Homo sapiens: one gene and its partners. The protein of the gene in region 3 interacts with the protein of the main gene of each other region in a pairwise test. Each region holds a gene or a part of one and is shown on either strand. Other genes may lie near its edges. The genes, in order: MTERF3, GAD2 and HIGD1C.

Region 1 (3,649 bases), on a different chromosome or scaffold from region 3:
AGGGGTTGTTTTCCAGTTTATACTCTCCCCAACAGTGTACAGAAGTGCCAGCTTCCCTGTTATCCTTACAGATACAGTGCTATCACACTTTGCTTTCAGTTGATTGTATAGATAAAAAGAGTACTTTATTTGTTGGTTGGAGCATCAGATGTTGAAACATGGAATGTTGTTTGGAGCATCTTTTCATATGTTGAATTTCTGTTTACATTTCCTTTTCTGTAATATATCCTTTGCTATTTTTTAATCAGGCTTTTTTCTTTTTCGGTAAACGTTCTTTTATATATGAAGAAAATTAGTTCTGTCTCTGAGACATGTTGCAGATATTTTTCCTAGATTGTCACTTGTCTTTTGACTTCATTTATAGTGGGGTGTTTTTGTTTTGTTTTGTTTTGCCATGCATTTAAAATTTTTATATACTTAAACGTATAAATATTTTAACTATTTTTAAAGGAGTAATAGTCATGTGATTATAAAGTAATATAAGTTTTGGTATATAGTATAAAAATACCATAGGCTTTAGATGTAGGCATGCCTGAGTTCACATCTTAGTTTTGTCAGTAATTAGGTGATGATCTCAGACAAGTTATTTAACTTCCCTGAATCCATGTTTCCTCATGGAAAATTCACTTGGCTCACAAGTTTTTTTGTTTTTCTGGTTAGAATTAAACAAAATAATATCCTGATATATTTTAGACATTTAGTAAAACCATCTTTTACTATGTTTTAGATTTTTTAAAAATGTTATTTTATAGTCAAACTTTCTATATTTTACTAACTTACATAGTTTGATCTTCAGAAACTTAGCAGGAAAATCTCTCAGTTGACAAAATACATATTGAAAGACTGTAGTAAAAATCATTTATAAAAATACATGCTCAGGCCAGGCATGGTCACTCAAGTGTAATCCCAGCACTTTGGGAGGCTGAGGTGGGCGGATCACTTGAAGTCAGGAGTTCGAGACTAGCCTGGTCAACATGGTGAAACCCCGTCTCTACTAAAAATACAAAAATTAGCTGGGTCTAGTGGTGTGTGCCTGTAATCCCAGCTACTTGGGAGGCTGAGGCAGGAGAGTCACTTGAACCTGGGAGGCGGAGGTTGCATTGAGCCCAGATCATGCCACTGCACTCCAGCCTGGGCAACAGAGCGGGACTCTTCCTGAAAAGAAAAGAATAGAAGAGGGGAGGGGAGGGGCTCAGTAAATATACTAACCTAAAAAATGCCTCTCTCAGTTATAACCATTATTTCCTTAATTTTCTTAATTTGTGTTATTTTCTTAATTTGTGTTTTTCTGTTCTTATCAAAAAAAAAAAAATCTTAAGCAGAAGCTATTTCATTCTTTCTTACCAAGTAATAAACCAGATTAATTGAAAAGAGAATCTAAAGGTTGGTGCAAAAGTAATCATGTTTTTGCTATTGAAAGTAATGGCAAAAACCGCAACTAATACCTATTAGTGGATTTCAGAATTATTTTCTGTTTTTAAGTATAAGTGGAAACCATCTAGAGTTGGGTGAATGCTTGTTTTGTTTTAAACGTGTTTTTGCCATTGTTACAGAATGCTTTTATTTAGTTAGTAATTTAGGGTGTGGGAGCCTTTTTAAAAACAGCTGTTACTTTGGGAAGTAGCATGAGACTCCATCTCAAAAAAAAAGAATGTAAGTGTTTATCACATGCGTATGTATTTATGTTTCTCTAGGGTGGCTTATCTGCATTCAAAAAATTTCAGTAAAGCAGATGTTGCACAGATGGTCAGAAAAGCACCATTTTTGCTGAACTTTTCAGTGGAAAGACTGGATAACAGATTGGGATTTTTTCAGAAAGAACTTGAACTTAGTGTGAAGAAGGTAAAGAAAAGGAGAGAATTTGTTTATTTCCATGTCAGGTACATTTTAATAGCTGATAGATCTCATGTTCCCAGCAGATGCCTGGCCCATGTGAATCATATAAATTCCTGGTATTTTTTGTACAAAAATGAATTATCCTGCTAGTTTAAACATAGAGCTCCATCATTTTATAATACTTAATCAAACTGGTTCCTTCAGTTTTTGTTTTCTTTTTTTCCAAACAGTATTAATCTTATCTATTCCTGGGGTTCCTATCATTTTTCTGATTGGGTCATATTTTAAGTTTTAACTTTGTATCTTAATAATGCCTTAATTTTCCAAACTAGTTAAAGATGCACGTATAGTAATACTAGATTGTTTTGTTTGCAACCACAGACTAGAGATCTGGTAGTTCGTCTCCCAAGGCTGCTAACTGGAAGTCTGGAACCCGTGAAAGAAAATATGAAGGTAGGACAACTTTAGGCTTTTTGAGAAATCAGTTTCTTTAAGTGTTAAAATCCTCTGAAGAGAACAGATTTTGCTATTGTCATGTAAAAGAAAACTAGACTTTAAAATAAGTTATTTCTAAAAAGAGAAATAGGAAATTATCTTTAACAAATGTCTAGCAAGCAGTTTGTTTCAGTTAATATTTTCACGTTGAGCAGGTATTAACCTGAGTAAATCACCTTGCAGACATTGATACCCACAATCCTAAAGCATTAGATAGGGATATAAGTGGTACCCTGAAACTGCTTCTGTTGCCCAGTGTGGGCGTCTGACGTCTTTGTTACCTGGGCAGTGTTACCAGTCTACGAAAGTACTCCTGTTGGCCAGCATGACAGTCTGTGTATGTCTCAGGGAGTTTTGGAGGCTGGATCCAAAAGACTTCTGTGAAAAGAGTAGCAGCCAGCACATTGTTCTCCTTTGCACCTGTCCCAATTGCCAGCTCTCATTCTGTCACAGAATGTACCAGACACTCTTTACTGTCCTTCCTCCAAGAGAATAAGATAAAGCCAAGAGCAGCTGACTAGTTAGTATATAAAGCTGTAGTAGTATTTGAAATATTATATAAGGGCTGTTTTCTGAGGTGAACAGTTCAGTCATTGAAGAAATCTTTTTATTGAGCTCCTGCCCAAGCGCCATGCTGAGGAGACAGCTTCTCCTCCCAAGGAGCTTACAATCTAGTGGGGGATCAAATCCAGAGTGATGGGGGCAGTTACTTGGTGGGGGCACACAGGACACTATGAAAGCAAGTAGAGGACCCGGCCTGTGTTTGGTTGTTTAGTTCCTCATCTCTGCTTGGAATGTTGACATGTCGTTTTTCAGACAACACATATGTGGGTGTACTTGGGAGCAAAAGCTCAAAAAGCATTTTGAAGATCCTGCTGCTGAAGGATCTGTTTGGTGTTGGGCCCATGCCTCTGACCTGCAGCGCTCCCATGTCACTCATTCCCTCTTGTAATTATGGTTGCCCCTTTGGTGAGCTTCATGACCATCATGGTGTAGCTCTTTCTCAGCAGAGGGGTTTGAAATTCTGGTGACCCCAGGAGCCGGAAGCTGTAATTCCTTGAAGGCACTGGCATAGCTGTCTCCAAATTTTAAAATGTTATTTTAAGTTTAAAAGAATCATGGTCAGGCGTGGTGGCTCATGCCTGTAACCCTGGCATGGGAGGCCGAGGTGGGCAGATCACTTGAGGTCAGGAGTTTGAGACCAGCCTGGCCAACATGGTGAAACCTCATCTCTACTAAAAATACAAAAATTAGCCAGGCATGGTGGTGGGCACCTGTAATCCCAGCTACTTAGAAGGCTGAGGCAGGAGAATCACTT
Region 2 (4,210 bases), on a different chromosome or scaffold from region 3:
TAGCTTTTTGTAGAAAGGAAATCATCAGAACGATTCTGACTTTCTCCTCCTTTCTTTATTAGAAAAAGAGAAACCGCCTCCTAATACGCCTCAGAGAGAACCAATCTCGCGCTTCCGGGTCACCCGCTACCGCGAAGATTCTCTGGGGGCGAGGGGGGGCATTGGTTTGAAGCCCCTTAAAACGAGGGCCCTGCAGGCGATGCCTTCTTTCCTACTCGGATTTGTAAAGCCGAGATTGCTTAGTTGGAAACCCTGTTCTCCCCTCCCAGGCGCACACAGATCCCCCTTACACGCAAGCAGCGGGCGCTTCCACGCCTCCGCGGGCCAAGGTCACCAAATGCCCTGATTCCATCCCCCACCCGCCATCAATCCTGCCGACTCTGGCCGCTCTGCCTCATTCTCTTCCAAGAAGTTTCCATTCGTTTTATTTTTTTTTCCCCAGCCCGAGGTCCTCAGTAGACTCCAGCGTGGATTTTAATTGCCTCAATCAGCAGTCATTCTCCCCAGCCGTCACTCAGAGCCTGGACGGTGGGTCCCGCGATCTAGCCCTTGGCTACGCAGGAACGGTGCGCCCCCGGGTACGGCGCGGTTCAGCAGGCAGGCGTCAGGTTCTACCAAGGCGCTGAAATGAGCCCATCAGCGGGTAGGAGCCCTTCCCCCGCCGTCCCCTCCCCAGGCTCGTGAACGGCGCCTGATGCCCGCCCGGGGCGCGAGCTCTCGAGGTCGCAGTGACCTCAGCACCTGCTTGGAGGAAAACGGCGCGGGAACCCCGCTTCCTTCCCCTCAGCTGGAGCCAGACCTCAAACAAAACCCCAATCGATGCACACAGAAAACTCCTCTGGGCCACGCTTCCCGCCTCGCCGAGGTCTCCCCAGTCTGCCCCTCGCTGACGCTGGCGCGCAGCGGCTGTGGCAGCACCCGGGACAGCGGCCGCCCGCACTTCCCGCCTCTGGCTCGCCCGAGGACGCGCTGGCACGCCTCCCACCCCCTCACTCTGACTCCAGCTGGCGTGCATGGTCTGCCTCGCATCCTCACGACTCAGCTCCCTCCCTCTCTCGTGTTTTTTTCCTCCGCCGCCCCCTCATTCATCCCCACTGGGCTCCCTTTCCCTCAAATGCTCTGGGGCTCTCCGCGCTTTCCTGAGTCCGGGCTCCGAGGACCCTTAGGTAGTCCCGGTCTCTTTTAAAGCTCCCCGGCTTCCAAAGGGTTGCCACGTCCCTAAACCCTGTCTCCAGCTCGCATACACACACGCACAGACACGCACGTTTTCTGTTCCTGCGTGACACCCGCCCTCGCCGCTCGGCCCCGCCGGTCCCCGCGCGGTGCCCTCCTCCCGCCACACGGGCACGCACGCGCGCGCAGGGCCAAGCCCGAGGCAGCTCGCCCGCAGCTCGCACTCGCAGGCGACCTGCTCCAGTCTCCAAAGCCGATGGCATCTCCGGGCTCTGGCTTTTGGTCTTTCGGGTCGGAAGATGGCTCTGGGGATTCCGAGAATCCCGGCACAGGTAGGAAGGAGAACGGGGGCCTGCGGCGGGCGAGTTTTGCGGTGGTCTGGGGTTTGCGGAACTACGGAGAAGACGAAGGAGGTTTTTCCACCTGCAACAGGAAACTTCTTCGGGCGCTTCTCCCTGCTTTTGGGCTAAGTCCTTGACGGCCCAAGAGCTCAAGACCTCTACAGCCTCTTGTACCCTGGGAAGACGCCCAAATAGTCTCAGGCCCGTTCCACAGAAGGTTGGAAGAGCCCCCCAAAGACCGCGGTGTCTCGGGGACATGGAATTCCGTGGTCCTGGGGCGCTGCTAAGATCCGGGTGTCTGGACCCTGGGGTGGGACGGAGTGACCGTGAAGATAGAAAAAAAAAATGGGAAAGGTGAGAGATTTCTTTATCTAGAAAGACAGTCTGCGAAAAAATGGATAGCTTCAGTGTTTAGGAAAACTCGTCCAAGGTAGGCAGGGAGAGGAATTTGCCTGAGCCGATTGGCACCTGGAAGGGCAGCGGTGTGGGCTTCTCCTCGGGAAACAGATAAAGGAAATGAGGGCTGGCCCGGGCCGCCAGCCTCCCGCTTGCCTTCTGCACCTGCCGGCCTCACCGAGTCCTGAGCGGCCCCCAGGAGGAAGGCGGCCCCTCCTAGGACCCCGGACTGATTGATTTTCACATAGAACGAAATTTCACACGTCCGTCTGTTGTTCTCTTTCTGCCTCGCTGTCTGCCTGCCTATTCTTCCTTGCAGCGCGAGCCTGGTGCCAAGTGGCTCAGAAGTTCACGGGCGGCATCGGAAACAAACTGTGCGGTGAGTGCCCAGGGACCGGGGCGGCCAAGGTCGGCCCGCGGGGTCCAAGCAGTCTTCTCACCTCCGCATCCCAGTCAGCGGAGTCGGGGTTTCCTGGCTGCGGGTAGGCGGGAGCGAGGGAGCCGGGCCCGGCGGAGGATTGACGAGGCCCGCGTTCGGTGTCCTTACCCAGCCCTGCTCTACGGAGACGCCGAGAAGCCGGCGGAGAGCGGCGGGAGCCAACCCCCGCGGGCCGCCGCCCGGAAGGCCGCCTGCGCCTGCGACCAGAAGCCCTGCAGCTGCTCCAAAGTGGATGTCAACTACGCGTTTCTCCATGCAACAGGTAAAGACTCAGCGGGGAGCCCCGGGGCGCCCCTGCCCCTCTCTCTGCCCCGCCCACCGCGGCCGGTGCGGGTCCGGCGCTGAGAGCCGGACAGGGGCGTCGAGGTGGCAGCGGAGGCGGGACCTGCCAGAATCTTCAGATAAAAGCGAGAAATGCGGGACCTGCCCGCTGGGTCCAAGCCCCCGAACCTGGCCTCGGAGCTCCAAGAGGGCTCTGAGGCCGTGGCGCTCTTCCCCCAGCGCGGCCCTTGGGATGGCGGGTGGCCGACGATCCAGGCGCTCGTGCGCTCACTGAATCGATGACGGCTGGCTTCCCTAGGCCGCTGGGGCCTCGGGTGGGACTCAGTTTCCAAATACCGTGCCCGAGAATTCAGAATTGCATTTTTTTTAGGTCTTTAGATCACGAGAGTGATTTGTAGCTGCAATTGCACAAGAGAACGATTCCATTCACATGAAACCCGCGCGCCGAGTTTTACCCCCGTGCACTTACACACCGTCTCCCAAATGTACGCGCGCACACACACATGCAGACACACATGCATACGCTCTCTCTCTCTCTCTCACACACACACACACACACACACACACACACACACACTGACTTTAGAAACAGCGGGCCTTCCTATCAGACCAGAGATCCTAATGCACCTGTTCCACTTTGGTTTGCCCGAAGGCATTCGAGACAAACACTTCTGACGTGAAATATTTATGTAAACATGTAAGATGGTTTACTGAGAAACACGTTTAAGACGAACTCCTGTGAACTAGATAAACGGAGGTACACGCTCTTCAAAAAAAGAAGGCAAACAATATAAGTTATGAATTGAAATGCAGTAATTAATTTGGGGAAGAGAAGAAATCATAATTTATCTCATTCATTCCCTTCACCTTTGAAAAATGTCTCCCTTTTAAAGAAAAATGTTCTGCCTTTCCAAAAGCTTTATCTAACATGAAATCTCTCAATTCAAAGAAATGTTATTGCCTCATCAAGATCTTGCCTTGAATATTTTCAAAGTAAAATTAAAATGTGGCATTTTAATTTCATTCTTTAGACCTGCTGCCGGCGTGTGATGGAGAAAGGCCCACTTTGGCGTTTCTGCAAGATGTTATGAACATTTTACTTCAGTATGTGGTGAAAAGTTTCGATAGATCAACCAAAGTGATTGATTTCCATTATCCTAATGAGCTTCTCCAAGAATATAATTGGGAATTGGCAGACCAACCACAAAATTTGGAGGAAATTTTGATGCATTGCCAAACAACTCTAAAATATGCAATTAAAACAGGTATTGTCTCATCGAAAATAATAAAGCTCTTTTTTCGTTTACAATTTTTATTTTATTTTTTTCTATAAAATGTTTTGTTTGATGGAGTTACTGATATTTTCAAAATTGCAAAGTTATTTTCATCATGTAAAAAATAGTCATTATTAGAATGATTCTAATCCAAAGCACCTTCCACTGCTATTGTTCATGCTTCTGAAGTTGATAATGTCAGAAACATGATTTAAGTGTAAATCATCAGATTTTACGTTGCATGTATTTGGACACGGAGGTTATACCACTGGTATAGAAGCAAATATTCATCAGCAGAGACCAGC
Region 3 (3,649 bases):
TCTGCTTCTGCCCATAAGTTTCAGTTCTAGGGATACCATAATCAGTTAGCCAATGCCAAAGATCTCTGTGGCTTACTTAGACTATTCTGATGACCACTTAGGCTTTGCTGCCCATCACAACAATCATGCTTTCCTTGTCTTTGTCAATCAAATGCTACCACTTGACCCCCACAGCCTCAGGATCCCATCATCCCCATTGAATTTAGGGAGCCCAGCAGTTTGCACTGTCATTTCTGGCATACAGAGAACAGTCACCACAGGACTCTTGTCAGGGCTACCCTGACAAATGTCTTTCTCACAACCTTAGTTTAGGGAGTGGGTAAGCAGGATAAATTTACTCTAACATACCAATCTCCCTAATCCTTTGGATACCTACCTCTGTGGCAGTTTCTGAACCTCAGCACTACTGACATTTTGGGCTGGATTCTTCTTTGTTGTGGAGGATTGTCCCATGCATTGCAAGATGCCTAACAGCATCCCTGGTCTCCACCCAAGAGATGCCAGTAGAACTCCTTCCCACCTCCACACCCTCAGTTGTGACAACCAAAAACATCTCCAGACATTACCATATTTCCCTGGGGAACAAAACTGCCCCTGGTTGAGAACCATTACTCTACCAAGGAAGTTCTGGCATTTCAATTTCATTTAGTGGAGATTACCTTTTGGTCCAAGTTTCAGTCATTCTCAGACAGGATGGAAGGACTGCTTCTATTGGCAAAGGAGTCTCACTAAAATTTAAGTGTTCAAAGACCCATTTCATTTATGTCTGCCACATCTTCCCAATTTTCAGTGTCCCACTCCTTCTAAAGCAATGGTTTAACATAAGTGACTTTGTGAGGTTGGGGATTGAATTTGTATTGTGATGAGCCACTCACAGGATTCGGGAGGCCAAGGTGGGTAGATCATTTGAGGTCAGGAGTTCGAGAACAGCCTGGCCAACATGGTGAAACCCCCATCTCTGCTAAAAATCCAAAAATTAGCCAGGCATGGTGGCATGTGCCTGTAATCCCTGCTACTCGGGAGGCTGAGGTAGAATCACTTGAACCCAGGAGGCAGAGGTTGCAGTAGGCCAAGATCACACCACTGCACTTCAGCTTGGGTGATGGAGCAAGACTCAGTCTCAAAAAAAAAAAAAAGAAAGAGAAATAGGGTCTTGCTCTGTCACTCAGGCTGGAGTGCAGTGGTGCAATCATGGCTCACTGCAGCCTCAAACTCCTGGGCTCAAGATATCCTCCTGCCTCTTCTGGGCTTAAGAGATCCTCCTGCCTGCCTCATTCCCACAGAGCTGGGACTACAGGTATGCATCATCATGTCTGGCTAATTTTAAAATTTTTTCGTAGAGGTGGGATCTCCCTATGTTGCCCAGGCAAGTCTCAAATTCCTGGGCTCAAATGGTCCACTTGCCTCAGCCTCTCAAAGTGCTGGGATTACGGGCATGAGCTACCAGACCTGGCCTTTATTTTTTGTAGAAATGAGGGTCTCACTTCATTGCCCAAGCTGGTCTCGAACTCCTGACCTCAAGCGAACTCCCACCTCAGCTTCCCAAAGTGCTGGGATGACAGGTATAAGCCACCATGCCTGGCCTAATGGGTGATAATTTAAGAAACTATTTTGCTACTAAATGCCATGGACTGTTAGCATCCTCCTTATAACTGAAAACATGGCCATTAATGCCTTTAAATCTAAACGGATCAGAGAACCAATTCCGGATAACCCAGAACCATTTCAGAGAACCTATCATGCTGGTTCTGTTCCTCTGGAAGTACTTCTAATTCCAAACTGTATCAGTCAAGATTCAGACAAGCAAAACTACCAGTAGTGATATATAAAAAGTGATTTAGGCTGGGTGTATTGGGAGTCCAAGGCAGGAGAATCACTTGAGCCCAGGAGTTTGAGACCATTCTGGGCAACATGGCGAATACCCTATCTCTACAAAAAATTAAAAAGTTAGCCAGGCAAGCTGCATGCACCTGTGGTCCCAGCTACTCGGGAGGCTGAGATGAGAGGATGGCTTGAGCCCAGGAGGTCGAGGCTGCATGAGCCTTGCTCACGCCACTGCACTCCAGCCTTGGCCACAGAGCGAGGCATTGTCTCAAATAATAAGAAGAAGAAGGAGGAGGAGGAGGAGGAGGAGGAGAATGAGGAGGAGGAGGAGAAGGGATTTATTACAGAGATATGACCTTAAAACATTTTTGGAGTTGGCTAAACAGTTTATGCGAAGCTGTTGCTTATGTTTCTAATACTGGGGACTGAAGTCAGTAAGGCAGCAGTTGGGAAGGAAAGATAAACTGGAATCTGCAAGGATGAACTAGAACCCAAGAAGACAGATGAGAACTTGTCAGACTTACTGCCTCCCAACTTACCGTAATCTCCACTCCAGTTACACTGATTCTTTTTTTGTGTGTGTGTGGGGGGAGACAGGGTCTTGCTCTGTCATCCGGCTGGCGTGCAGTGGCGTGATCACGGTTCACAGCAACCTCAAACTCCTAGGCTCAAGTGATCCTCCCACCTCAGCTTCCCTAGCAGCTGGGACTACAGGCGTGTGCCACCATGCCCAGCTAATTTTTGTTTGTTTTGAGATGGAGTCTCACTCTGTTGCCCAGGCTGGAGTGCAATCTCAGCTCACTGCAACCTCCACCTCCCAGGTTCAAGTGATTCTCCTCACTTTGCCTCCTGAGTAGCTGGGATTACAGGCACCCGTCACCACACCTGGCTAATTTTTGTATTTTTAGTAGAGATGGGGTTTCGCCATGTTGGTCAGGCTGGTCTCAAACTCCTGACCTCAAGTGATCCACCCGCCTTGGCCTCCCAAAGTGCTGGGATTACAGGCATGAGCCACCACGCCTGACCCTAATTTTTTTATTTTTTTGTAGAAATGGGTCTCGCTATTTTGACTAGGCTGGTCTCTAACTCCTGGCCTCAAGTGATCCTCCTCCCTTGGCCTTCCAACGTGGTGGGATTACAGGCATGAGCCCCCACCACGCACCGCATTTATATTGTTTATAAATAAATGCACAGTTTAGCTGGGCACGGTGGCTCACGCCTATAATCCTAGCACTTTGGGAGGCAGAGGCGGGTGGATCACCTGAGGTCAGGAGTTCGAGACCAGCCTGGCCTACATGGTGAAACCCCATCTCTACTAAAAATACAAAATTAGCTGGGTGTGGTGGCGCACACCTATAGTCCCAGCTACTAGGGGGGCTGAGACAGGAGAATTGCTTGAATCTGGGAGGCGGAGGCTGCAGTGAGCCAAGATCACCCCACTGCACTCCAGCCTGGGCAAGACAGAGAGACCCCATCTCAAAAAAATAAAATAAGTAAATAAATAAATCCAGATTTTGAGAGGCATGCTCAACATATTTACTTAGATAAATCTGGAAAGTTTGGAGACCACCTACCTGTGCCATGTAGAAATCTCATACGTAAGGCCAGGCACAGTGGCTCATGCCTGTAATCCCAGCACTTTAGGAGGCCAAGGCAGGCAGACCACCTGAGGTCAGGAGTTCAAGACCGGCCTGGCCAACATGGCGAAACGCTGTCTGTACTAAAAATACAAAAATTAGCTGGGCATGGTGGTGGTGCCTGTAATCCCAGCTACTTGGGAGGCTGAGGCAGGAGAATCGCTTGAACCTGGGAAGCGGAGGTTGCA

What was found.
Region 1: the proteins of HIGD1C (region 3) and MTERF3 interact in a two-hybrid assay, tested with the Homo sapiens proteins (one large-scale study listed by BioGRID and IntAct).
Region 2: the proteins of HIGD1C (region 3) and GAD2 interact in binary tests that used the Homo sapiens proteins (3 or more experiments, as listed by UniProt).

What each region holds. Positions count from the first base shown.
Region 1 is NC_000008.11:96,244,500-96,248,148, reverse strand, and holds part of MTERF3 (transcription termination factor 3, mitochondrial isoform 1 precursor), read left to right. Parts: intron 1-1,694; coding exon 1,695-1,842; intron 1,843-2,217; coding exon 2,218-2,289; intron 2,290-3,649.
Region 2 is NC_000010.11:26,215,381-26,219,590, forward strand, and holds the start of GAD2 (glutamate decarboxylase 2), read left to right. Parts: upstream 1-1,393; 5' UTR 1,394-1,429; coding exon 1,430-1,505; intron 1,506-2,229; coding exon 2,230-2,289; intron 2,290-2,461; coding exon 2,462-2,611; intron 2,612-3,662; coding exon 3,663-3,896; intron 3,897-4,210. UniProt on the Homo sapiens protein: Catalyzes the production of GABA.
Region 3 is NC_000012.12:50,965,992-50,969,640, forward strand, and holds part of HIGD1C (HIG1 domain family member 1C), read left to right. Parts: intron 1-3,649.